Linked DNA regions of Homo sapiens. The protein of the gene in region 1 binds, or shares a complex with, the protein of each later gene. Each region holds a gene or a part of one and is shown on either strand. Other genes may lie near its edges. The genes, in order: TMEM216, CEP290, AHI1 and MKS1.

What was found.
Region 2: TMEM216 (region 1) and CEP290 share a complex: the UniProt entries of both Homo sapiens proteins name them as parts of the tectonic-like complex.
Region 3: TMEM216 (region 1) and AHI1 share a complex: the UniProt entries of both Homo sapiens proteins name them as parts of the tectonic-like complex.
Region 4: TMEM216 (region 1) and MKS1 share a complex: the UniProt entries of both Homo sapiens proteins name them as parts of the tectonic-like complex.

The regions. Positions count from the first base shown.
Region 1 is NC_000011.10:61,388,596-61,395,590, reverse strand, and holds the start of TMEM216 (transmembrane protein 216), read right to left. Parts: upstream 3,005-6,995; 5' UTR 2,960-3,004; coding exon 2,926-2,959; exon of another isoform or gene 2,912-2,925; intron 2,361-2,911; coding exon 2,259-2,360; intron 1,708-2,258; coding exon 1,615-1,707; intron 1-1,614. UniProt on the Homo sapiens protein: Part of the tectonic-like complex which is required for tissue-specific ciliogenesis and may regulate ciliary membrane composition.
Region 2 is NC_000012.12:88,048,496-88,055,096, reverse strand, and holds the end of CEP290 (centrosomal protein of 290 kDa), read left to right. Parts: exon of another isoform or gene 1-596; intron 597-683; coding exon 684-757; intron 758-1,350; coding exon 1,351-1,445; intron 1,446-4,663; coding exon 4,664-4,743; intron 4,744-4,936; exon of another isoform or gene 4,937-5,682; coding exon 5,683-5,913; 3' UTR 5,914-6,081; downstream 6,082-6,601. UniProt on the Homo sapiens protein: Involved in early and late steps in cilia formation. Its association with CCP110 is required for inhibition of primary cilia formation by CCP110.
Region 3 is NC_000006.12:135,284,737-135,291,764, forward strand, and holds part of AHI1 (jouberin), read right to left. Parts: intron 5,790-7,028; coding exon 5,687-5,789; intron 912-5,686; coding exon 909-911; coding exon of another isoform or gene 890-908; 3' UTR 1-889. UniProt on the Homo sapiens protein: Involved in vesicle trafficking and required for ciliogenesis, formation of primary non-motile cilium, and recruitment of RAB8A to the basal body of primary cilium.
Region 4 is NC_000017.11:58,209,228-58,216,255, reverse strand, and holds part of MKS1 (tectonic-like complex member MKS1), read left to right. Parts: intron 1-12; coding exon 13-168; intron 169-1,357; exon of another isoform or gene 1,358-1,417; coding exon 1,418-1,515; intron 1,516-1,868; coding exon 1,869-1,997; intron 1,998-2,386; coding exon 2,387-2,491; intron 2,492-3,165; coding exon 3,166-3,274; intron 3,275-3,821; coding exon 3,822-3,878; intron 3,879-5,233; coding exon 5,234-5,276; intron 5,277-5,531; coding exon 5,532-5,597; intron 5,598-7,028. UniProt on the Homo sapiens protein: Component of the tectonic-like complex, a complex localized at the transition zone of primary cilia and acting as a barrier that prevents diffusion of transmembrane proteins between the cilia and plasma membranes.

The DNA.
Region 1 (6,995 bases):
CTAATTTTTGTATTTTTAGTAGAGACGGCCACCATGTTGGCCAAGCTGGTCTCAAACTCTTCACCTCAAATGATCCACCCACCTCGGCCTCCCAAAGTGCTGGGATTACAGACGTGAGCCACTGCGCCCAGCCAATTTTTAAAGTTATTTTGTTTTTTCCTTAGTGATTTATGTGAGCCTTCTTTTATCCTTTCTTATATGTTGCAAGTAATTTTGTTCCTAAGTTTGTGCTTTAACGTTGATTTCAGGGATGACATATTCTAACAAATAAGGGTTTTGCTCTGTATTTCTGGGGTTATAAAACTTGTCCTACAGGCCAGGCATGTTGGCTCACGCCTGTAATCCCAGCACCTTGGGGAGGCCAAGGCAGGAAGATTGCTTGAGGCCAGGAGCTTCAGACCAGCCTGGGCAACAAGGCAAGACACTGTCTCTACAAAAAACACAAAATTAGCCAGGTATGATGTCGCACACCTGTGGTCCCAGCTACTCAGGAGGCTGAAGTTGGAGGACTGCTTGAGCCCAGGGCTTCAAGGCTGCTGTGAGCTATGATCGTACCACTGTACTACAGCCTAGGTGACAGAATGAGACCCTGTCTCAAATAAATAAATGTTTAAAAAACAAAATCTGGCCAGGTGTGATGGCTCACACCTATAATCCCAGCACTTTGGGAGGCCAAGGCGGGTGGATCATGAGGTCAGGAGATCGAGACCATCCTAGCCAACATGGTGAAACTCTATCTCTACTAAAAATATAAAAACTTGCCGGGCATGGTGGCAGGCGCCTGCAGTCCCAGCTACTCAGGAGGCTGAGGCAGGAGAATTGCTTGAACCCGGGAGGCGGAGGCTGCAGTGAGCCGAGATGGTGCCACTGCACTCCAGCCCAGGTGACAGAGTGAGACTCCATCTCAAAAAAAAAAAAAAATCCAACCAGGTGCAGTGGCCCACATTTGTAATCCCACCACCTTGGGAGGCCGACACAGGCAGATCACAAGGTCAAGAGATCGAGACCATCCTGGCCAACATGGTGAAACCCCGTCTCTATTAAAAATACAAAAATTAGCTGGGAGCAGTGGTGCACGCCTGTAATCCCAGCTACTCAGGAGGCTGAGGCAGGAGAATCGCTTGATCCCGGGAGGCAGAGATTGCAGTGATCCGAGATCGTGCCATTGCACTCCAGCCTGGGGACAGAGTGAGACTCCATCTCAAAAAAAAAAAACAAAAAACTCCTACAGAGATCCTTATTCAGAGAATTGTTAGGGATCTTAGTACTGATCTGTACAGGATACACTGCCTGCCCTGACGTGGAGTTACAACTGAACCTATTCCCCTAAGAATACTAGTGAGAAGAACCAAGCACTCTTCTTGCAGTTAGGCAGCTGGGAAGGAATCATCTAATATCCCATTCTATTGCCCATCTCTAGCCTTACAGAGCAACAAACAGGTAAATCTTGACCCAATGTATGAAGCAGCAACTTGAAACTTCAGAGACGGAGTAATAGGATATACAGATCCAGTCTATGATAGTCAACCTAGGTTATGTACTTTTCTTGTTAATCAAGTTACAGATACCAGCTTGTCTCATAAGGAGTGGAAATATTCTCTGGACAACACTTACCAAAAAACAGGCGAATTACTTCAATTCCAAGATAAAGGAGGAGCATCACCACATCCAGTACTAGGTTAGCTGTTGGATATGGTAGCAGGACACCTGCCAATACAAAAGCCAGAGTTTGCAAACAGCATATAACAGCACCCACAAGAACTGCCACACACTTGGGAAAAAAGAGGACATCAGTCTCAGCTTTCCATGAACTAGTTAGTGAGATGTGGGCATTATTACAGCAGCAGGATACATAAACTCACAATGCGACTCAGGCTCATTATTATGGTGTTTTACTCCTAACTCCAAAAGTCTCTGGGGACTCCACTCTCCAAAATGATTGGATGTACATGGGTACACAGGCCACTGAATAGTTTCTAAGGGTCACCAGTGGGCTTACAGTGGAGCTCAGCAAAGAGCAGTGATGTGGGCAGAGTCAGAATGGAGAAGCCCACATTTCTCAAACTCAAGAAATTCTTGCTGAGGGGCTGCCTATGGAATCATACTCAAAGAAGCCATCTGATGAGGAGGCCTGCCTTGCAGCGACAAAGAACTGCAGGGGGCAGAAAAGAACGGAAAATAAGAAGGTTCTTGGTAGGAATTGGCTCTGAGCTGAAGTGGGGAAGGGATGCTGTCGTCAAGCCCCAAGCCTTCCTTACCTTTATACAGAAATATGAAAAGTTCCAGCAGGAAATAGGTAGCATTATACCACCCGTTCAGAAAGAACAGGATTTCCAGCGGGGTGGAGGACAACCGTTTACCTGAAAAAGGAGCACAGAGAAGTGGGATGGGCCGGAAGGCAGCTCCCTCTCTGCTCGTATGGGTTGGTGTCTAACTTTGGGGAAACTAGACGCTGCAACTAATGGGACCGGCCACTCAGGGGCACTTCTGGTTGCTGATAATGAGGGGGCGAGGGTACGGGGGTGGGAGTGGAGGGGGCTTCCCTCCTTTCCTAGGAATCACCGTGAAACTCGACTCTTCGGCTTCAGGAATAAAAGTCAAGAGGTAACTCGCAGCTGACAGACATCTCAAAGATCTCACTCTGTCACTATTTGGGAGGGGAAGTTGGGGCGCAGAGACCAACAGATTCGCACCTGAGCCAGCCTAGAAGTGGCCCAGCCAAGGATCTGCGTTTATTTGAGCTGTGCACCTTGAGACCTTCAGGCACCCAGGGTGGGCGGGACCGCGGAAGCCGGCTTTGGACCAGGGAGGCGCGACGTCCCTAACGCTAGAGAATGGAGGGTTTAGGTCAAGCTCTGGGACAGAGGTGGGAGGGAGCGACCGAAGGGAAAGGGACCAGCGACTCACACACCTCCGGAATCTCACCTCGCGGCGCCATCTTCAGTCCCCGTGGCAGCATACGCTGCCACAGCGGCTCCCGGAGCAGCGCGGCGCTGCCGGAAACAGGGACGAAGCGGCCTGGGTTTCCGGCCCCTCTGCCCGCCCGCGGCACTCTGTGGTCACCCGGAGCTGGACGAGCTCGGGCCTGGCCGCAAGTGGCCCTCGCTCGGATGTCCCCTCTCCAGACCTAAGGGATAACGGTGACCACCCACGACGCCGTCGTCTGCAGGACCTCAGGGGTGCGGGGGAGGACCTTGGAGGCTCTCAGACTACCGGGCGTTGGGCGGAAGTGGCCAGTTGTGATAGTGTTACCAGGAGATTGGCAAATAGGTCCTACTCCCACGATTCTCTTTTTTCAACGGAAGACAAGAAAAGGTGTGAGCGACGGATCTCTGCAAATGCAGGGTGGAGTTAGCATTGGTCTTTTCTGCGGCCGATTTACCTACCAGGTAGAGACACGAAGGAAATAGAGCGTCCTTTCCAGGAACACACATAAATAAAATGAAACGAGTCACCACGCGATCCATAAAGTGGTGCAGTGGGAGCTGAGAGGACAAAGTGCTCCCAGGTGGAAATCTAAGTTAGTTTCCAAGAGACGGCCTGTGAGCTGGGCTTCAAAGCCTGCCTGATCCGGATTTGCAGCGGTAAAAGCGTGTTGCTGGCCGGGCTTAGTGGCTCACGCCTGTAATCCCAGCACTTTGGGAGGCCGAGGTGATGGATCACCTGAGGTCAGGAGTTCGAAATCAGCCTGGCCAACATGGCGAAACCCCGTCTCTACTAAAAATACAAAAATTAGCCGGGCGTACTGGCGCGCGCCAGTAGTTACAGCTACTTGGGAGGCTGAGGTAGGAGAATCGCTCGAACCCGGGAGGCGGAGGTTGCAGTGAGCTGAGATCGCGCCACCGCACTCCAGCCTGGGCGACAGTGAGACTCTGTCTCAAAAAAAAAAAAAAACAGAAAACTGTGTTGCTGCAGGCAGGGGAGTGCAAAAAGAAGGGTTTTGAGAGGACTCAGGTTGACTTGACTTGGCTGTTAGCCCGTTGTCAATCAGGGTAAAGCAGGAAACAGATGGCACGCTCCAACCAGGTAGCCTGAGGAAGGTGACTAAGCTTTATTTTATTTATTTCATTTTATTTTTGAGACGGAGTTTTGCTCTTGTAACCCAGGCTGGAGTGCAATGGCGCTATCTCTGGTCACTGCAACCTCCGCCTCCTGGGTTCAAGCGATTCTCCAGTCTCAGCCTCCCAAGTAGCGGGGATTACAGGTGCCCCCCACCACACCCGGCTAAATATTTTTGCATTTTTAGTAGAGACGGGGTTTCACCATGTTGGCCAGGCTGGTCTGGAACTCCTGACCTCAGGTGACCCGCCCCCCCCCCCCCCCCCCCCCCCCCCCCCCGCCTCCCAAAGTGCTGGGATTACAGGTGTGATTAATGCCCCCGGCCAAGAGTGACTAAGCTTTAAGCAAAGTGCTGTACCCCTGGCTAATTGGGATGTGGTGGGGCGGTAATTGTTACTTCTAGGCTTAAAAGGGAAGGGCCTGAAACAATTCCCTGAAGCTGGAGAGTAATATGTGCATAGAAGGCCTCCCACTAGGAACCCTCACACTCTAGGAGGCTAGTGGATAAATATAGCAGGGACCTCCATTTCCCTTCTCCCATCTCTGATCTCTGCTTATGTCTCCCGCTGACACAACTTAACTGCAAGCTGGAGGGCAAGGAAGCCCTTTAGGGTAAGTAGGAAAGCGCAGAGCACAGAGGTTAAGGTGGAAAGGAATCCAGATCCTGCTTCCCCATCTTCGCTGCCTGCAAGACAAGAGACATTAGAAAAGTTCCTGCTCTGAGCCTGATATGGAAAGAAAGTGGGCCAGCTGCACCTGGCGCGGTGGCTCACACCTGTAATCCCAGCACTTTGGGAGGCTGAGGCGGGTGGATCACTTGAGGTCAGGAATTCAAGACCAGCCTGACCAACATGGTGAAACCCCATCTCTACTAAAAATACAAAATTAGCCGGGCATGATGGCACATGCCTCTAATCCCAGCTACTTGGGGGGCTGAGGCATAAGAATCGCTTGAACCTGGGAGGCGGAGGTTGCAGTGAGCTGAGACCAAGCCATTGCACTCCAGCCTGGGCAACAAGAGTGAAACTATGTCTCAAAAGAAAAACAAAGAAAGTGGGCCAGCTGCTTGTTTTTGTAAATAAAAGTTCTTTGGAGAACGTCATCATGGTCACTTACTTACATGTTATTATATATTGCAGCTTTCATGCTATTATGGCAATGTTAAGTAGTTGCAACAGAGACCACATGGCCCACAGCCTTAAATACCATCTGACCCTTTAAGAAAAAGTTGGCTAATCTATGTCAGAGTATGCCACAACTTCATAGATGCCAAAAGCTGACAGTGAGGCCAAATTACTTATGGCAAACAGCAGGAACATCAGCATGGCAACCTGGGGGCCCCCTGCTCCCAAGTCCTATGAGTGACACAATGACCCCAGATGGTGCTGCACTCAAGGAGTTATGCCACAGCTTGGTGGAGCCCAGAGCCAAAGGCTCAGTACCCTTTTTAGCAAGCAGCAAATAAAGCCAGGCCCTTTCCACTGGGGAGGGAGAAATTATACTATCATCACACTATAGTCACTTTGGTCTACTTAATTGCTTCTGTGCTCAGTATCAGGAGACAGACTTTCTGGTTTGACATAGTAAGAACATGCAGGGATGCTTAGGACCCATGCAAGACTGTCCCAACAGCCAGTGCCCTTGCTAAATTGATTATTTCTAGGAGGCTTGTTATGTACATGATCACATCATCAGTAAATAAAGACATTTTTACTTCCTTCTCAATCTCTATACCTTCAATTTCTTTTTCTTGCCTTATTGCACTGGCCAGGACTGGCAGTGTAATGTTGACTATAAGTGGTGATGATGGATAGTCTTGTCTTGTTCCTAACCTCAGGGGAAGCGTTCAATATCTCACCATTAATATGGTGGCTATAGATTTTTTTTGTAGATACTCTTTATCAGATTAAGAAAGTCCCTTATTATCCTAGTTTGCTAAAAGGCTTATGATATATTTTATTAAGTGTGTTCTCTTAATCCGTTGAGAGGACTATATGATTTTTCTCCTTTATTCTGCTAATATGAATTACATTGATTTTCAGAGGTATGACCAACCATGTCTTCCTGGAAAAAATAAAAAACCCATTTGCTTATGAGACTGTACAGAAAAAACTTAACATAGCAGACCTGAGGCTGCTGTCTTTGGAGAGGCCCAACTGCAAGGTTGACCCTTGCCTGGCGTAAGGGAACTTGGCTTTTGGTAGTGTTCCCACCAGTTTAAAGTGGCTCACAGTGCCTAAACTGTACAAACAATGTGGCTTATGCTAAATACCTGTTCTCCTTCTCAGAGTCTGGAGTTTTGAAACATGTTAGGCAGAGGGTGCCTTCATGATCAGCTCCCAGTAAAAACCTTGGGGGCTGGGTCCAGTGGCTCATGCCTGTAATCCCAGCACTTTGGGAAGCTGAGGCAGGAGGATCAATAGAGCTCAGGAGTTCAAGACCAGCCTGGACAACACAGTGAGACCCTGTCTCTACCCAAACAAAAAAATTTAGCCAGGCATGGTGGTGCACACCTGTAGTCCCAGTTACTTCGGAGGCTGAGGCAGGAAGATTGCTTGAGCCCAAGAGGTAGAGGGAAGAGGCTGCAGTGAACCATAACTGTTTAAAAAAATAAAAATAAAAAAAATAAAACTTGGACCCTGAGTCTCAAGTGAGCTTTCCTAGTAGACAACATTGCACATATGTTATCAGAATTTGTTGCTGGAGGAATGATGAACGTCTTGTGTGATTCCCCCTGAGATAGACCTCTTGGAAGCATGCTGCTAGTTTCTCCTTGACTGTGCCTCATGTATCTTTTCCCTTTGTTGACCTTGCTTTGTATTTCACTGTAATAGATCAGAGGCATGAATACACCTGTATGCTGGGTCCCATAAGTCCTTATAGCAAATCATCCAAACTGGGTGTGATCTTGGAGACCCCTGACACAGATATGTTAT
Region 2 (6,601 bases), on another chromosome or scaffold:
CCTAAAATAAAACTTAAAAGTTCTTTTCATATCCCAAAACAACATATGAGGTCTGGCACCCAGTTTTCTTCCCAATCTCATCTTCTACTACTTTTCCCTTCATTTCATTCACAATGTTTTAACCACAGTAACCTTCTTTCAGTACTTTAAACAATCCAAACTCGTTTAAGCGTCAAGTCCTTATACTTGTTTCCTTTGTTTAGAATACTGTTCACCCAAATATTCTCATAGCTTGCTCCCAGACTTCATGTCTCTGCTGAAATAGAGGCTCCTTAGAGAGACCTTCCCTAACCCTAACCCTAACCCTATACTACTTGCCATCACTCTTTATCCTCTTACCCTGGATTATTTTTTCTTGATAGCTCTTCCTACCATCTGGCACTATATTACATCATATCATATTAAACACACATTCTTTGTGCTTCCCCACTAAACAAGGACCATGCAAGATGGAACATTGCCATTTTGTTCACTGCTGTTAGCCTCTGTGCCTAGGACAATGCCAGTTATGCAGTAGTTACTCAATACTTGTTGAATGAATGGTGAATAGAACATAGAAATTTGCCTATGCGTGCTTTTGAAAACCATATTTTAATATTACGCTTTGTTAAAAATGTGTATCTTTATAAATCCTCATATTTCCATGGCAAACCTTATCTTCTAACTTTTCATTGTCCTCAAAGATTAAGATTCTTAAACATGTTCCTGAAGGTGCTGAGACAGAGCAAGGCCTTAAACGGGAGCTTCAAGTTCTTAGGTACATCATGTATTCATATGACTACTTTGTTTTTTTCTTTAAAAAAAAAATTATTAGTTTTTATATACTCCGAATTGCTACAACTAGAGACAAGCATTTTTCGACTTTACTGCCTAACAGGCTTATTAGGTCCTTATTTCTTCCCTCTAATGCTAATCACTCTTTTTCATAATACACACTAGAAAAAAAGGATAAACCCAACTCTAAGTTTCCAGTTTGTAATTTAGTTTAAACTTTTCTAAGAGCATAGAATGAGTTAAACCTTAGCTTCCCAGAGGAAAATACTAATGAAAGAGAACAAGTAATTTTTTTACTTTCAGGGGTCTCTGTAGCCTGCTTTCATTAAGCTCCTCTTATAACGAAACCACACTTGCAAATGCCATCAGGTCAGATATTAAGAAAAACGTGAAGGCTTTTGTATTCCAGGCTTTTTGTTTGAGAATGGTGACATTGTAGCATTGAGAGTAAATGTTTACTTCGATAAAGGCTAGCTTGTTCTGATTACTGTACATCACTAGTTCATAAGAAATGCCCATATATTTTATGAAGCAATATCTGCTTTATTTTTTTAACACATTATCATTGTGTTCTAGATTAGCTAATCATCAGCTGGATAAAGAGAAAGCAGAATTAATCCATCAGATAGAAGCTAACAAGGACCAAAGTGGAGCTGAAAGCACCATACCTGGTAATGTATTTTAAAAAACATGTTAGCTACCCCCAAGTTTTTGAATTTGGGTTTGCCTTTTTTTTTTTTTTTTGGCTCAGATTTCTGATCATTGTCTCCCTGTAAAATCGAATTCCTGATAAGCTTTGGGTCTTTTGTCTCTCTGTGCTATTAATATAAAAATATTCCCATTTTTCTCTTTGTGTTGTTTATACTATAGAGTAGCAAGTACCCAAGTGTTCTTCTCTTTGTTCTCCATCTGGGTGTTACAGATTTAATCACAATACAGTGCTAAGCAATGAATACTAAATCTGTTGCTTCCAGTTTCTAAGTATAGGCTCTTTCAAGTCCTCTGAACATTTTTAAAAACTGCAAATAAGTAAATACTGCCTATATTTTTTTCCGTTTACAAAGTAAAAAGAAAATCTTTCTGCTCCCTTCCATTCCCATTCAAAAGTGATTACTAATCATTCCTCATTCCTGCATATACATACACACATATTTTGTATACATATATATCACACATATGCATACATGTGTTTGTATGTTCATATGTACAATGTACATATCCTCATTATTTGTGGATTCTGTATTTTCTAAATCACCTCCTCACTAAAGTGTGTATGTAATCCCAAATCAACACTCGCAGCACATTTGCAAACATCCACAGAGCCTTGGAAAGTTTGAATAATCCAACCTACATGTCCCCAGCAGAAGTCCAACAAGGCAGTGCTCAGTATCCTCATTTCAGTTTTCATAGAGAAATGAGCAGAGGATGGAGACAGTAGAGGGCAGCACAGCATAGTGCAAGAAGCTGTGGCTCTGGGGCCTGGTGGAAGGGATTTGAATCCCAATTCTGAGGCTTGTTACTGCTCTAGCCTTAGGAGAGTCATGTAACACTTCTGAATCTTGTTTTCTTATGTAAATAAATAGAATTTACCAGGATGAGTTATCTTTAGGATTTAAGATTATCATCTGTGTGAGATATGTAGGTGTATGTATATATATGCGTGTATGTATATATATGCGTGTATGTATATATATGCATGTCTGTACATATTTCCCGTAGCAGCAGTGGTTTGATATTCACTAATTGGGCTAACTTTATAGACCAAAACTACTATGGATAGAGAATACTTTGTTTGCATTTACGTATATATATTTTCTTGGCAAGTAACATAAAATTGAACTAATACTATACACATTTCTAGCATATTTGCCTTTAACAGTTTATCATGGACATCTTTTGAGGTCTGTTCATAAATTATCTCATCCATTTAATAATTCCATAGTGTATTATTGCATGTATAAGCACATCGAACCATTTATGTTTTGATGGATATTTAGTTTGCTTCCAAGTTTCTGCTTCTATAAAATATGATTAATCTATTGACCTAATTATGCCATTGTGATAGGATGATAGAGATGCCATTCTCTCCAAAGGATTATACCAATTTATATCTGAACTATCTTTGACTATCTCTTGTAGCTTTTTCAGTATGCTATGTAGTCCTATTACTAATTTGTAATAAAAGCCATCATGTGTGAGTTGTACTAGACACTATGCTAATTGCCTTACAAGCATTCTATATTTACAACCATATATGATAGGTATTACTGTCTCCATTTTATGTGATAAACAAATTCAAAGTGGTTAAGTAACCATTCCCTAAGCCAGCTAGGAAATAGAGGCAGGATTAAAATCTAAATGTATGAAACTCCACAGCTCCTTGGCATTCCTAGTCCTTAACCCGCTATGCTATGCTACGTCTTGGTAACTAAAAGTACATATTAAATACTCTCAAAATATGTCTCATAGCAGCCAGCTTGGTATGTACACTAGACACAGTATTAATGCTGTTGATGTGAGGAAAATTTTATAATTTTCCTTCCATCCATATACTAACCAGGCCCAACAGTGCTTAGCTTCTGAGATCAGAGATCAGGTGCATGTGCATTAAGGGTCATATGGCCATAGATAGTTCTCTAATCTTTCCATTCCTCAGTTTCTTAAGGGAATTTCTGAACCCTCAAAATTCCTTATTTCCTAAGTAGACAGATTACCTGTCATTTTTCAAAGATTAAGGCTTAAGATCAAACCAGAACTGTTTTGGAAATTCTAAATCACTGTCTATATAAATGGCAAGATAACTTTTAAGATATTTATACCAAGCCCAGTACAGTAGCACACCACACCTGTAATCCCAGCACTTTGGGAGGCTGAAGTGGGTGGATCACATGAGGTCAGGAGTTCGAGACCACTCTGGCCAACATGGTGAAACCCTGTCTCTACTAAAAATATAAAAATTAGCCAGGCATGGTGGCACTTGCCTGTTATCCCAGCTACAAGGGAGGCTAAGGCAGGAGAATCGCTTTAACCTGGGAGGCAGTGGTTGTTGCAGTGAGCCAAGATTGCACCACTGCACTCTAGCCTGGGCGACAGAGTGAGACTGTCTCAAAAAAAAAAAAAAAAAAAAAGATACTTGTCCCAGCCATGAAAATGTTTGCTGCCCCTTACTTTCGCAAACTTTTAGTATTTTATTATTTTTCAATGGCTGTAAAATATGACTTATTAAATGTAGTATAATATAAAGAAAAGAGATATCTAGCAAAGATAGCATTAAAGCAAAAATCCTATTTGCCTGCTGATAAAGTTAGAGGTGTTAACTTGGAGGGTGAATCCAATAAATTAGAACTTTTGTGCTATATTTGGAGACTTTTGTTTTCCTACCAAAGTATCAGGGCTATGTCTTACTTATCTTTGTATTACACAGCCTGCATGACACGTTTTGCACATAGTAATTGCACAGTAAATGTGTAATAACCTACATGGAATAGCCAGTGTTGTGTTGGATAGCGGGAGCATTTGGCTAGCTTATGGTTATAGTCCCTTACCCAACAGTCTGCTTTTCTTCTGTTGTACTTTTAGTACCTAACAAGTTTCCCTGGCTTTAGGATTTTTTCCATGTAAAATTTCTATCATGTGAAGAAAAAATAACTTGGCCTACACTTCTAATACCTAGCACATACCTCTTTCTGCCTGCTATGAAATTATAATACTTGATGGAGGGAGGCAGCATTAAGTGTTTACATCCTGAAGTATTTCAGCCATAACATCCAGTGTTTTCCAGGTTCTAGGTTTCATAAAATGTATCTCTGTTCTCTAGAACAAATCCATTACCTTGAACTCATTCGTAGTGGGAAAAAGCTGAGTCTAATTTGTATGACTTTTTCAACAGATGCTGATCAACTAAAGGAAAAAATAAAAGATCTAGAGACACAGCTCAAAATGTCAGATCTAGAAAAGCAGCATTTGAAGGTAATATTTAATTATATTTTAGTATCGTTTTGTGAAAACAGCTGTTGAAAACTATTTTCATTACCATCTTTAACTACGTATCCTAAAAAATTCAGTAATAACATCTTATATTTGACCTTTATATTGCAAAGTTAATTATGTTCATCTGACTATTCCTAACATATTAGAGTTAACAAAAAATTCAGACTCAACATAGGATTAAGTAGTAAATTTATTTTTTAATTGTAACAAATATATGCCATTAGTATGTTCTTAAGTTTTGGGTCACATTGGCAACAGTGTCTTTATTTTTTTTTTGAAATTCTTTTCAGGAATCCTAAGGTTATAGTTCCCTTAAAAAAATATTTGCTGTTTTACCTCTTTTAAGACTGTAAACAGGACAAAAAGGCATGGATATGAGAATTAGCTAGTGATCACTGGCTATTCTAAATAGTCACTAAGGCTTGAATTGTCTCTTCACCAGATGCCTGTCAGAAGTCCCAAAGGTTTCCCTGATCATATTAATAACTTTATAAAAAATTGATCATTATTCATTAAATATTAGATATTAGTAAGGAAAATATAAATGAAGTCTAAACCAAAACTCTTAACCAGACTAACTTCAATGTTATGAATCACAAAATCTTTTTGATTGATTGCTCTATTGACAAGCTCTTATATGCTTTTAGAGAAAGATTAAGTCCCATTATAAGAGATGATAAATTTTAGTCAAAGACTAGAACACAACTTACAGAATACATAACTGGACTTGACAGTTAACAACTTAGTTATTTACACTGTACAATGGAACAAAGAAAAATCTTAATTCTTCTGCCTTTATTGCTGTATTTGACCATTCAGGAATACTTTGGCTTTCATATTTACAATTAAATCTCCTTGTTCAAACGTAAAATATGTATATTTCCTATATGCAACTTTTAAAGATAATGTTTCCATTAGGAGGAAATAAAGAAGCTGAAAAAAGAACTGGAAAATTTTGATCCTTCATTTTTTGAAGAAATTGAAGATCTTAAGTATAATTACAAGGAAGAAGTGAAGAAGAATATTCTCTTAGAAGAGAAGGTAAAAAAACTTTCAGAACAATTGGGAGTTGAATTAACTAGCCCTGTTGCTGCTTCTGAAGAGTTTGAAGATGAAGAAGAAAGTCCTGTTAATTTCCCCATTTACTAAAGGTCACCTATAAACTTTGTTTCATTTAACTATTTATTAACTTTATAAGTTAAATATACTTGGAAATAAGCAGTTCTCCGAACTGTAGTATTTCCTTCTCACTACCTTGTACCTTTATACTTAGATTGGAATTCTTAATAAATAAAATTATATGAAATTTTCAACTTATTATAAAAGTATATACTTGAAGACTTGTTACAGCCATCAAATAGGCAGTGAGCTCTGGTGAATTTCTCTACATTCATAATGCTTTAAGTTTTTTAAAGAATATGAGGGTAAATTCAGCAATTTTAAGATTTAAAATTGGAGTTTATATATACTTATTTATACATGTGTTAAGATTCTCAAATCCTATGATATATACACAGATGTAGACATACACACATATAGGTTATGAGGTTGAGCCGTATGTTTTGTTAAATATCTAGCAAAATTAAATTGAGCTTAAACTATTTAATTTTGAAAATTAGTGACATTAAATTGTTGTCTTTAAATTACCACTCAGTTATAGTGAAGAGAATCCAGCCTTTGTCCAAGCTTAGGAGCTTACTATTACTTATGTTTTTATGGCTAGAGATTAAAATTAATTTGCTGGTTTTTAATAAAATTTTGAATAGGTACTTGAAACTGGAAAATTCATTTCTTCACAAATGGTAGAAAACATATTGATGTTTCATAATGAACAGAA
Region 3 (7,028 bases), on another chromosome or scaffold:
AATCACTTTTAATTTAGGTCTATGAAGTTACCTATATGATTTGATCTTAAGAAACACAAAATTTTAATTAGAAAGTAAATTGTTTTCTTTTAATGTCTTTGTTACTGAGACTGTTTTGAATGCGCCATATTCTAAAGCTGCTTATCTTTTTTGTTTTTTGGAGATAGAGTCTTGCTCTGTCCCCCAGGCTGGAGTGCAATGGCGTGATCTTGGCTCACTGCAACCTCTGCCTCCTGGGTCAAGCAATTCTCCTGCCTCAGTAGATGGGATTACAGGTGCCTGCCATGAGACCCGGCTGATTTTTGTATTTTTAGTAGAGATGGGGTTTCACCATGTTGGTCAGGCTGGTGTTGTTGAACTCCTGACCTTAGGTGATCCACCTGCCTCAGCCTCCCAAGGTGCTAGGATTACAGGCATGAGGCACCGTGCCCAGTCAGCTGCTTATCTTTTAAATAAAGTGAATTTCAAAAACAGATACTTCATATTCTGGGCATAGCATCACACATACAACCATTACCAATATAATAATATTAAATGATTACTTAACAGACATCCTAATAACGCAAACACCTTTTATTCACATTTGCTGAGTAGCAATTACAGTGTTTTCTTCATTAGTTTTCCAACACTGGTAATGTAATTATGATGCAATTACTAACAATATAAGTACCAATACTTTGACCAACAATAGTCACAATGGTTTATAACAACTGAACTCAAAGGCCACGTTGATTTTTCCACCCACAACTTGATTCTGATTTTTCTAGAGTCATTCATAAGAACAAGAAGTAGTGGATCCTTTCTTCCTCCTTAGTATCTGAAAATTCTGAACTCTGAAGAGAAATTCCATTTGGTTTGTCATTTTCACCTCTGTGCATTTCGGCAGCTCTTAACTTTTCTTCAATTCTTTACTGGAAAGAAAAATACACAAAATGTACTAAATAAACTTGAATAATGTCTTCTGACTACAACCAAATCTTAGTGTGCTCAGGCAACAGCACAGGTAATAAAGGACATTGTGTAAAACACAAACACATACAAACACAACTAAAAAAGACCAAAATACTAATTTCCTATCTTCTAGTTTGCCTCTCAAACATTGTTAGCATCTTTTTGTATCATTAGCAATTGTTTAAGGCCTGCTCCTGCATTGACAGGTTAATGTAAGCAAGAAAGAAATAAAATCCCCAAATATAGACACTAAAAACTCCAAACCATAAGTAACTTCCAGAAATGAAGAGCAGGCAATCAGAGTATATGAAATTCTTCATTGAATGGGAAAAAAAGTCCTCATGGATGATATTCAGGGTTAGTGATTCGGAAGGATACAGATAATTTTATTAAATAGCATTCTTTCATTTAGTCTATGGCTATGCCTACTTTTATATAATTAGGTTATTACATTTTTCAAATCAATTAAAAAATGGGCTGTCTCATTTTTGACCAAGATAGTAACAATCAAGCATCCAGATGTGGCTTTGATGTAAAACAAATTATACAATTCATAAAAATCAAGAACCAATATGCAGATGAAACAAGAAGTTGCTTCCTTAGACAGCATGTAGTATTTGCACTACAACTAGTGTGAGATAAATTAGTGGGGCTAAACCTAACATTTTTTAATGCAATCATTCATACAGCATTGATAAGTTCTGGACTTACACAGAAAGGTTACTGTCCTTCTTCTAAAGAGAAAGGCTTAACACCTGGTTGTCCTTAGAAAACACACGGCAGTTTCAGAACGATGGCAAATCTGGTTAAGGTAGCAGTCAACTCCATCGACCACTCCTGAGAAAAGTGACAGCTGGCACACTGTGGCAAGAAAGGGCAATGGCTAACCATTCCTGAAGGGCTTTCCCTGGGGGCACAGGAGGTGTAGGGGACACCTGTGCTTTAAGGAACAGGCCCAATCTTAAATCAATGGTCGCACTATCTTTTCATATAAAACACATTTACACATGAGGGGCAAAAATTCTTTATCACTTGATGTTTCTTGATTTTAAATTTGTTAAACAGAGCTACTCCAGGTAAGCTTGTATCATATATAGAAGCCCAAAAATACGTTCTAGTGAAGCTCATGAATGCACATGAAGTTGAGTATAAAAATGGTACAGAATACGGCATGCCAAGGTATAATACCACTAGGGGCAAAAAAAGTCTCCCTGTACATATACAGAAAAAGTACGTAAAACTTTCACCAAATTAGGATCTGATAAAAATGGAAAAGAAAGTAGTTTCAATGAAGGCTGGGCTAAAGTCACAGAGAGACATATAAACTTCTGCAAAAGGCAGTGAGGAGGGTAAAGGATCTTACAGGAAGAATAAGGCAAAACAAAGTGAGAGGAAGAGTTCATGTTAGTGGGAGGACAAAAAAGAAGAAGAAAAACAGAAAAGGGAAGGGGGAGAAGGGGAGAAGAACAGCTGGAAATTAGTGAGATGGATCCTGCACGTGCAGAAGATGTAGGACAAGTGAAATCAATCAGGTGGTGACTGCACTGTGAGAAGTAAACAGAGAAGCCAGACGGACCTTCAGGAGAAGAACCCAAAGAGAAATTCAACTCGAAAAATCTAAAGTAGGCAGCAAAGATAACATCTTTGAGGGAAATGATTCAGACTCAGAAGAGGAAGAAACACACTGGATAGAGAATGACAAAGATGGCGCATAAAAGGGAGAAAAGAGACAGAATAAAGATGGTCATGTGCACCCTTCGGACACTGGCGGCTCCTCCTGACGATGGGAGGAAAATCAAGAGTGGCACACTGGCTTGATGAACGCTAACAGCAAAAGGACCTGAAAGCTAGGAGACAGCAGGGATGTGCTGAAAGAGGGAGGAGAAGACATCTAACCAAAAGACAAGGATAAATGCAAAGCCATTCCTTCTCTATCTTCTCATAAAGTATCTCTGTAATCTAACAGAGGAAGAAAGTAACGAAGCAAAGCCCTTTTTAAAGGCTCTTGTGATGAAAAGAGAAAGAAACATTCTTCTTAGCAAGCTTATGAAAACAAGTATGAAACTAGGTTAGTGTTTGTGTGTATGTTATGTCTGGGGAATAAGATTCATAAAAATACCGGGCCGTGGCCGGGCATGGTGGCTCATGCCTGTCATCCCAGCATTTTGGGAGGCTGAGGCGGGTGATCACTTGAGGTCAGGGGTTTGAGACCAGCCTGGCCAACATGGTGAAACCCCATCTCTACTAAAATACAAAAATTAGCCAGGTGTGGTGGTGGGTGCCTGTAATCCCAGCTACTCGGGAGGCTGAGGCAGGAGAATCACTTGAATCCAGGAGGTGGAGGTTACAGTGAGCCAAGATCGCACCATTGCAGTCCAGCCTGGGCAACACAGCAAGACTCCCTCTCAAAAAAACAAAAACAAAACACAACAAAAAAACCTGGACCTTACCCCACAAGACATTCAATCCAATAGATCTTTCCTGAAGGTTTACTTCTGTGGCAAGACACCAGGCTAAGTGCAGGGGAGGAAAAAAATGTGAGTATGTATTAAATAATAGCCCCTGACTGGAAGCACTGGCCATCTAATCAGAGTTAATATACAAAGCAATGTGTAAGAGAAACAGCCCTGAACTTGGGGCAAGAAGATTAATTCCTAGTTCAGGTACTTTGTAGCTGTAACTTTGAAACCTTGGTTTCTTTAAATGTAGAAACAACACGCTGTATTAGAAAATTTCTAAAAATTACATTCATTTTGAAAGAAATGATCAAGTAGTAAATATACAGTAAGTAGATAAATTAGAAAATGCACAAAGTTAAAATAGAAGAAAAAAATTACCATAATCTTACTACTCAGATAATTATTCATGTCTTTTGATGTATATTATATAAACTATTTTATAATCATTTTTTACTTAAAAATCATAAACATCTTTTCATGTCCATAAAAATACTTCCATAATATGATGAATAACCATATGATATTCTGTTATATAAATATTTCATATTTTAATCAACCCTTTATTTTAAAAACACTGCTCGAAGGAGTAGCCTTTTAACTAAATCTCTCCATGTATACTTGAATACTTTCCTATAAGAGATTCCTTGAAGTTGAACTGTCAGGTCAAAGAGATGCACATTTTGAAAACAAAACAAAACAAAAAAAAAACCCTAACATATTACCTAATTATACTTCACAAAGAATGGATCAATCTTATAGTATTACCAGCAGTGTAAGCGGGAATCCACATCCCATTTTCTCATCAATACTAGGTATGTATCATAAGTTTGAAACTTGTCATTTTGAAAGGGTAAAATACCATCTCATTTTATTGTTTTAATTTTCATTAATTTGATCAATGGATGGTAAACATTTTTCATATGTCTGTTGCCATTTATATTTATCCCTTTAAGAATCCTTTAAGAATGTCCTGTGTATATCTTTGTCCCGTTTTTCTACTGGTGTATTTTTTTTCTTGTTGAAAAAGCTCCTCTTAGAGCTTTTTATTTGTTAAGGGTATTACTCCTGGCCAGGTGCGGTGGCTCACGCCTGTAATCCCAGCACTTTGGGAGGCTGAGGCAGGTGGATGGCTTGAGGTCAGGAGTTCAAGACCAGCCTGGGAAACATGGCAAAACCCTGACTCTATTAAAATACAAAAATTAGCTGGGTGTGGTGACACGTGCCTGTAGTCCCAGCTACTCGGGAGGCTGAGGCAGGAGAATCACTTGAACCCGGGAGGTGGAGACTGCAGTGAGCTGAGATTGCACCACTGCATTCTAGGCTGGGTGACAGAGCAAGACGTCTCAAAACAACAACAACAACAAAAAAAAGAGTATTACTCTTCCATGGGTAAATCTCTTCCATCCCAGGTTATTGTTCATTTAAAAATTCTATGACTTTTTTTCTTTTTGACCTGCATAATTTTAAAGTTTCCATTATTTAAGAATCTGTTTTATAATGTTTTCCAATTCTGGTATCAAGGTTAAAAATAATTCCTTAGCCCATGATTACATAACTATGCATCTATATGCTTCTGTACAATTAGATTTTAGTTTTCTACAATGGAAAAATAAAAATATGAAAATTTTGACTCTAGTTCCTACAAAATGACAAATTTATAAATGTGGACATGAACAGCTTCGTAACATTTCACCTTGAACAGAAACTTCACTTCTACTTAATAGAGAAAAGGCCTTCTGGCAGGCCTTCCCTATACCCCAACCCCTACCATCCAAACACATTTTCCCACTGGCGTATCTCGGTGGAAAAAGTGGCCCACTCTTGAGCTGTAATCCTCTGGAGTTCCTTAGGCCCCCAGGGACTATCACTCTGCTCCGACACCGCAGATGGCTCCTTCTCAAGTGGCTCTTTCCTCTCAGTTTGTAAATATTCTTGTCATTCCCCTCTTTATAAAGATCTTGTCTATACCCTGTGTTTTCCACTAGTTACTGCCTAGCTTTTTCTTTCCTTTAAATTCCAGCTTCTAAAGAGAATAAGACTATTCTTACAGTCTTTTTCCCTTTGGGCTGGAGACAATCTGATTTATGCTTCCAGGTTTCTCCATCAAAACTATCTTCTCCAAGGTCGCAAATGGCCTCCCGGTTACAGATCCCAAATGGGACTTGTCAGTCCTTATTTTACTTGCCTCTCTCTGGTATTTGTCCTTGCTGACCATGCTTTCCTAAATCTTTTCCTGTTGACAACATAGCGCAACTTTCTATTGGTTTTCCCCTTACCTCTATTAGAGTGACTTTTCTGCCTGCTTGCTTGTTCTTCCTCATCCGTGTATCCATTATGTGTCCTTGGTCCTCATGGCTCTGTTCTTTTCTCATTTCAGAACTATAGGAGGGAAAGATCAGAAACAAGGAGCCAGTAAAAGAGAGCTGAGCTAAAAGCTCAGATGAGGCTTTGATCTAGGGCCGTGGCAGTGGAAACAAAAATGGGGATAAATGTGAGGATATGACAGAGAAAAACATCCGGCAGAACTAATGAGTATACACGGGGATGAGAGACAAGGAATTGCTTAAAATAACGTTAACAGACAAACCTTTGGCTGGTTGGGCTCCTTCTTAGCCATGATAAAGGGACAAGAATAAAATAAATTTCAAAATCTTAAACAATTATCTGTGGACTTACAGAATAAAATAAATTTCATCTGTCTCAGAAAAATATTAGATGCCTGGGAAAAATCAGAAAGTTCTATCAACTTAGGTGGAAACACACACAAACACACACACACACACACACACACACACAAAAGTATAGGACATTCATTCATGACAAGAAAAGAAATGAAGGAAATTTATATATAAGAAAGCTGTAACATCCTGATCTGTGGAATGAACAATGTAGCTTTCCAAATGATTCAATGGCAATAGCAAAATATAAAACAAATGTTTTGTGGATGAGTGTGTAGTAATGCACTTTATATTAGGAGAAAGAAAACACAAAAACAATGAAAAAAAAAGGAAAACTGAAGAATGGAACAGAGTATCTTCTAAGTTGTCTAGGAATGGTGAGAAACACCACAGAGGAGCTTGAAAAAGATACAAGAATTTCAAAATCAGGTATTAAATAGGACTGAATAGAGATTCTTGTGAACCAAATGATATTTCCCCAAAATTCACATGTTGACACCTGAACTCCTAATGTAACTGCATTTGGAGACAGGGGCTTCTAGGGAGATAACTAAGGTTAAATGGGGTCAGAAGAGTGGGGTTCTAATCTAATAAGACTAGAGTCCTTAGAAGATGGAAAGATGAAACCAGAGCGTGCTCTTTTTGCACAGAGAAGAGGCCATGTGAGGACACAACAAGAAGGCAGCCACCTCCAAGCCAGGAAGAGAGGCCTCACGGGAAACCAATCCTGCTGGCACCTTGATCTTGGGACTTCTAGCCCCCAGAACTGTGTGAAAATAAGTTTCTGTAGTTTAAGCAATGAAGTCTGTGGTATTCTCTGTGGCACCCTGAATAGACTAATGAAGAAATGTGTAAGTAAGTGAAATGAAGTCAGATGACTGAGAATGAAAAGGTCAGAAATTACAAAGAAGAAAGGACAGTAAATTTAGATAGAATGATA
Region 4 (7,028 bases), on another chromosome or scaffold:
TGGTAACCTCAGTTTGAAGTAGATCTGTACCAAAATGAAACAGCCTGTCAGAGTCCTTTGGATTATCAGTACCGTCAGGAGATCCTGAAGCTGGAGAATTCGGGTGGCAAGAAAAACCGACGAATCTTTACCTACACTGACTCTGATAGATACACCAATTTGGAGGAGGTATTGTTCTTTCTAGGGTCTCATAGCTTCCATCTTTGCTTCCTCTAGCTTTTTTGCCTCACTGAGTTCTGTGTGTTATGTCAGAGCCTAGTAAGGGGAGACAAGTAGCCTGTCTAGGAACTGCTGTGAGCTGCTGCTGCTGGCAGCCAGCCTGGAATAGAATGGGCACAGTCTACAGGTGGTGAGGCTGCTGCTCCCTTCTCTGCCTGCTAGAGGGCCTGGGGGAGCTGCCAGTATCTCTGATTATATGCTTGCAGAGTGCATACTGGGAGAAGTAACCACTGGGCTTGACTTCCTCCATGCATCATGAAAAAAGACAGGTAGTGGAGTCTGGAACAATATAGATAAAATTCATCAGGGGATTCAGCCCAAACTCTGAGTATATGGGTTTGAAGAGGAATTCAGTATAGCTATGGAAAATGGCTTATGTCCTCAATTTGCCTATGACAAAAATACCCTTGTGACCTTGTTTTACATTTTCTTCAGTCACTGCATTTCAGTTGCTTCTGTCTTCTCAGTAAGATTTTAAGCTCCTCGAGGGTAGAGCCTATTTTTTTTATTTTTGTCTATGACTCTGTAGGTCTCTGCAAGGAACAGGTATTCAATAAATGTTTTTGAAAGATTGACGTGCTTTCATTATTAGAGCTGTGGATTGATAACATTAGCTGGGCATGGTGGCATGTACCTGTAGTCCCGGCTACGTGGGAAGCTGAGGCGGGAGGATCACTTGAGCCAAGGAGTTCAAGGTTGCAGTGAGCTATGATAGCACCACTGCACTGCAGCCTGGGTGAGACCCTGTCTCTTAAAAAAATATATAAATTAAATAAAATTTGGGTTGTCTGTTTTGGAAAAGCAAATGAAAATGCAGTTAGTGCTCAGTTACCATGTGAGGATTTCCCACAAAATGCTTGTATCCCATTTGGCATTTTCTAACCACCTTGTTAACTTCAACATCTACCAAGCACACTAACCCAACTTTTTGTTGGTTTGTGCTCAGAGAATGCAGACTGATTTTAATATTAACATAAATAACTCCTTTTTAAAATCCAAAGGCAAACCATGATGTGGTAGAAATCTTCTTTGGGTTGTTTGGCTACTGCTCCCTCCGTTAGCATGTATAATTGTGAGGTGGCGGAACCTGTGGGGTTCAGGTCCTGGATGAGGTTTCAGGAGGAAGACTTCCCTTCAGGTACTTGGCTCCATGTGGCCCTGACCAGATGGCGTACACAGGGCTGCTTGCTTTTCCCAGCACTGTCAGAGAATGACCACTGCAGCCAGCGAGGTGCCTTCATTCTTGGTCGAGCGAATGGCAAATGTCAGGCGTCGCCGGCAGGACAGGCGAGGGATGTGAGTGCGGGCATGGGATGGGGGACAAGCTTTTACTTTTTATTTCCTAAAGTTGGGTAGTTTTGCATTTTTATCAGTGGTTATATATAGTATTCAAGTATTACTTTGTAATTAATTTAAAAAATAAATATAAAAATATAAAATATCTTCCTCACTCTTCATGTGGACATTTTTCCAAAGTGCCTCAGAGAGAGGGAAGGGATGTCATTTCTGTTTGTCAAATATTTTGGCTCTTAAAAAACAAAACAAAACAGTATGTCCACTAGCTCAAACTTCCCATTCTGAAGTGGCTCTCCACTGGGGTGCTCCATTGGGGTGTGCCAGGGAAGTGACCTTTCTGTGGTGTCTCCCAGGGAGGGCGGCATCCTCAAGTCACGCATCGTCACCTGGGAGCCCTCAGAAGAGTTTGTCAGGAACAACCACGTCATTAACACCCCTCTTCAGACAATGCACATCATGGCAGACCTGGGGCCCTATAAAAAGTGAGTGGCGCTTCTCACTGCCAGCTTAGAGCCTCATCCTTTTCTCCTCTCACCAGCTCTCCCCTTCCTGTTATTATCATCCTAGGTTATAGGGGAGGGAGGGACTTTTTCTTCCTTCTCTTCTTAGTTATGAGTGAAGCTTCTCACTGCCAACTCAGATCCTCATCTTCTTCTCCTCTCACCAGCTATCCCCTTCCTGTTATCATCCTGGGTTATAGGAGAGGAAGGGACTTTTTCTTCCTTTTTTTTCTTAGTTGTACTTGGAAGAAAGTTTTACCATGACAGCTCTCCCTATAGCCTCTGTTCTCTCCCCTGCAGTGGGCTCAGTATCTCTTCTTGTTTCCCTGAAGGACCATTGACCTCAACCTTGGTGTTTTCCTGATTTCTAGGCTTGGCTATAAGAAGTATGAACATGTCCTGTGTACTCTGAAGGTGGATAGCAATGGTGTGATCACAGTAAAGCCTGACTTCACGGGCCTCAAAGGACCCTACAGGTGAGGAGAGGAAGAAAGGGGTAGTGGAGACTGGCATTCCTTCCCTTGGTTGCACTTTTTGTCCCTAGTCAACTAGACTGTCAGAAAGTCCTTCATCTGTTCTAACTTTTACATTCCCAGGCAATGGTTCGTATTCTGTTCCAAGTCATAGGGCCTTAGAAAACCAGGGACTCCTTTCTCAGAAAATGTGCAACTGCACCAATTTGAAAGGGATCACTTCAGTGGTACAGTTAAATGACAGTGATTCTCTGTGCTGCTGAATGTAGGACCTGACCAGAACAGAGTGGGGTGAACTCAGCCAGGCTTTTCCTGTGGGCTGACTGTTCCTCATCTCTGTATCTTGGAAATGACAGAAATGTAAATTAGAAATTATCTGGCCCAACCTGTCCATTTTTCAGGTGAGAGAACTGGGTGGCAGGAATGTTGTGCCTTACAGTTTGACTGTAACTTCAAGCCAGAAATGGGCCCAGAACCTATACTTTCTGAGTCTAGTCTGGTGCCCTCTCTGCTTTACCCTTTTGTTTCTCTCTCCTGGTCGTCAATACAGCCACTTTTATCATCATATACTTTAGTGAGGTGTATGGCCCCTGATCGCTCATCCCTGGGCTGGGAGCTATCCCAGGGCCCATCTCTCATTATTAGAGTTGCTCCTTTCTGTGGTTTTGACCTTACAGGATTGAGACGGAGGGGGAGAAGCAGGAGCTGTGGAAATATACGATCGACAATGTTTCCCCCCACGCACAGCCGGAGGAGGAGGAGCGGGAACGGCGAGTGTTCAAGGATGTAAGCGCAAGTTCATTCCAAGTATCCAAGGGATGAGCCTCAGTGCCTGGAGCTGAGACCATTTCTGAACTTGATGTCAGCAGTTGCTCGGGAAAAGCCTTGCCCTTCATGGCCCCTTCTGACTTAGGCAGCATTGCTGACATATCAGACAGAAGTTTTTGATCATATTATAATAATAACAATAACCATTTATTTGAGCATTTACCATGTTCTGTGCTAGGTACTTTACATACCTTATTTCCTTTAGTCTTTACAACAACCCTTTGAGGTGAACACTTATTACCACCTTATAAGTGGGGAAACCGAGATTGAGGAGCTAAGTAGTCTGCCCAAGGTGGCATAGCTTGTAAGGGCGAGAGTCAGGATTCTGCCCCAGACCAGCTGACTCCAGGGCCTCTGCTTCACGGTAAAATGGCGGTGAGTCAGGTGCTTACGCCTCCAGCTCTTGCTGACCCTTCCCACTATTGCTTTTCTTCTTCCCATTCAGAACTGAACTTTGGTCTAGCTTGGGTTGCATCTTGAGTTTTGGTTTGGTTTGTTTCCTCAGCTTTATGGCCGGCACAAGGAGTATCTCAGCAGCCTCGTAGGCACCGACTTTGAGATGGTGAGTAGCTTGGCTTCCTGCAGCACTGTGAGCTGTGTTTAGCCGGAGCATTCTGACTGTGGATGAGTTACACTACCTCTCTTAAAGGCCCAAAGGTATACTCTACAGTGTGAAAAGGAAGTCAAAGAATAGCACATATAGTCCTTGTTATGTGTTTTGCAACATTGCATGTTGATAGAGAACTGTTAATGCTAAGAAAAAGGTCTGAAAGGCTATGCACATGCTGTGGGTGGCTTTCTCTGGGGAGGGTGGGATTAGATGTGGTAGAAGGGTAGTGGGTGGTGAGAGGGATATATTAGGGATTTTTGCTTTTTATTCCCTAAACTTAGGTAGCTTTGAATTTTTATCAGTTGTAATGTATTTAGGTATTACTTTATAATTAATTTAAAAAATAAATATAAGGATGAAAAATGTCTTCTTCACCTTTCATGTGGATATTTTTTCAAAATACCCCATAGAGAGGCAGGGGTGCCATTTCTGTTTGTCACATATTTTGGCTCTTAAAAAATATAGGCCTGATGCGGTGGCGCATGACTATAATCCCAGCACTTTGTGAGGCCAAGGTGGGAGGATCACTTGAAGCCAGGAGTTTGAGAGCAGCCTGGGCAACATAGTGAGACCACATCCCTACAAAAAAAAAAAAAAAAATTAGCAAGGCATGGTGATACATACCTGTAGTCCCAGCTACTCATGATGCTGAGGCAGCAGGATTGCTTGAGCCTAGAAGTTTGAGTTTGCATTGAGCTATGATCACACCACTGCATTCCAGCCTGGACAACAGATCAAGACCCTGTCTGAAAAAAAAAGAAAGTGGTTTAGTTCAGCTATTCTGTTGTGCTGTTCTTTGTCTTTTCTCATTCTAAGAGTTCTATCTCTAGACCTGGAAACAAGGATAGAATTACTTCCTGGTCTCCCTCTCTTTCTCTGAAAAATTAACCTTCACTATTTCCATATTGCATAAGCAACAGATATTCAGTATTTAAAAGTTAGATAAGACATGCACAAATAATTAAAAAAGAAAACTCCCTGGTTTCTTGACCTCAGCCATCTAAAGGGAAGAGGGCGTTCTGGCTTCCCATTGCACACCACAGGACAGTTGCTGTTGCTTGAATAATTTCCCATAGTGCATTGTCCTCACTGCCATTTAAATTATGTACTTTCCCCCTACATTGTGAATCTTAGGAATGAAGGAAACAGATCTGTGGAGAAGTGTCAGGGTGGGGAGAAAGTGCAGTAGTGACACCCAGGGCCTGACCCCTAGTGGCAGGTCGTCTGCAGATTTGTAGATGGGGCTGGAGGAGAAGTGCCAATTCCCTCCAGGCCTGCTGATCCTTTCCCACTTCTCTTCACCTTAGACTGTCCCAGGTGCCCTCCGGCTCTTTGTAAATGGAGAGGTCGGTAAGTGTCTTGCTAGCATAGATCTCTTGATGCTTAGGCACGTGCCTAGATGGAGCTGTGAATAGTCTCCTCCACTCTGGTAGAGGCCTTGTCTGCTGTACTTGGGAAACTCAGTGGTGAGTCTTTCCTGGAAACGCAGAGGGTTCCTGGCCCTCAAAAGACTTGCTCTCAGGGTGTGTAGGCCCCTCAGGATTGGGTTGGGTGCTAAGGGTGGTAGGAGAAAAAGCTAAAATAGCTTCCTGTTTTCTCTCGTAGTTTCAGCCCAAGGCTATGAGTATGACAATCTCTACGTCCACTTCTTTGTAGAATTGCCAACTGCTCGTAAGTAATATTCTTAAGTCTCTCCTTTTATACCCATTCAGACAGATCTAGAGGCATTTGGTCAGGCTTCCTTTCCCACTCCTCTGCTGAAACTGTTACTGTTCTTTTCAAGGTCATAGATCACATCCACTTTACCAAACCCAGTGGAGACTTCCCTGCTTTCACCTCGCTTGACCTTCCTGAAGCATTTTCCAGAGCCCACTGTGCTGCATGACACACTTCTCTGGCTTCTGGCTCCACACTTCTCTCTCCTATCTCGCTGGTGGCCCCTCATCCTTCTTGGGTGATGCCTTCCCTTCTGTTGATCTTAAACCGTGAGAGTACCCACAGCTAAGCCAAGGCCTTCTGTTACTCTCTGTCTGCAGTCTTCCTGGGCAACGTCATCCATCCTATGGCTTAAATACCATCAATACGTCTCAGACTCCCAGGTTTCTGCCTCTAGCCTTAACCTTTTCCCTGGACTCCAGACTCATATCCAGTTACCTCTTTTGTCATTTCTGTCTAACATGACCAAAAAGAACTCTTGATTCCTCCTCTTCCCTCAAACCTCTCCTCCCTGGTCTTCCCCATCCTAACAGAATGGCAGTGTCATCTACTGAGTTGTTGATGCCAAAAACCTAGGGAACATCCTTGATCCCTCACTTTCCCTAGCTCCCTATAGCCAGCCAATCTGTCAACAGTTCCTGTCCGTTCTGTCTTCAAAAGCTGTTGTGAACCTATTTGTTCTCTCCAGCACCCTACACCAAGCCACCACCATCTCTTGTCTAGGCCAGTGCATTCAACTTCTGATGTATCCCCCTGCTTCCTGCCTTGCTCCCATTTGCCGTTGATTTGCCACAGACACCAAAGCCAAGTTGAGCTTTAAAAAATGTAAACAAGTTATGTCCCTTTTGAGCTGAAAACCCCAACAGCTTCCCCTCCCACTTAGAGTAAAATGTAAACTTGATACCCTGAATGAGCTGGCCCCTGCCTATCTCTTCCATACAACCTTCCAGTCATTCTTCCCAGCCAGGTTCATTCCCACCTTGTAGCCTTTTAAGGGCCGTTTCCTTTGTCTGAAACCCTTTCTGCCATATCTTAGCATGGCTGGTTCTTTCTGAGTTTAGGTCTCAGCCTGTGTCGCCTCTGAGAGGCCTTCTCTTACCACCCAGTCTAAATGAGCCTCCCAATCACTCAGTCCCTTCCCCGTTTTGTTTTTAGTATAGCACTCATCACTACCCAATAGTCTCTTGTTGGTTTGGTTTTTGTCTGTCTCCCTGCTTCCCCCAGAATGTCAGCTCCATGAGAGATGGGGATCTTTTCTATCTAGTTACCAAGATACCCCTAAGATATACTAGCACATAGCAGGCACTCAGTAAATGGTAAATGAATGATTGATTGTGTGAATAAATGAATAAAGAAACTGTCCGCCCCGTCTGGGAAGTGAGGAGC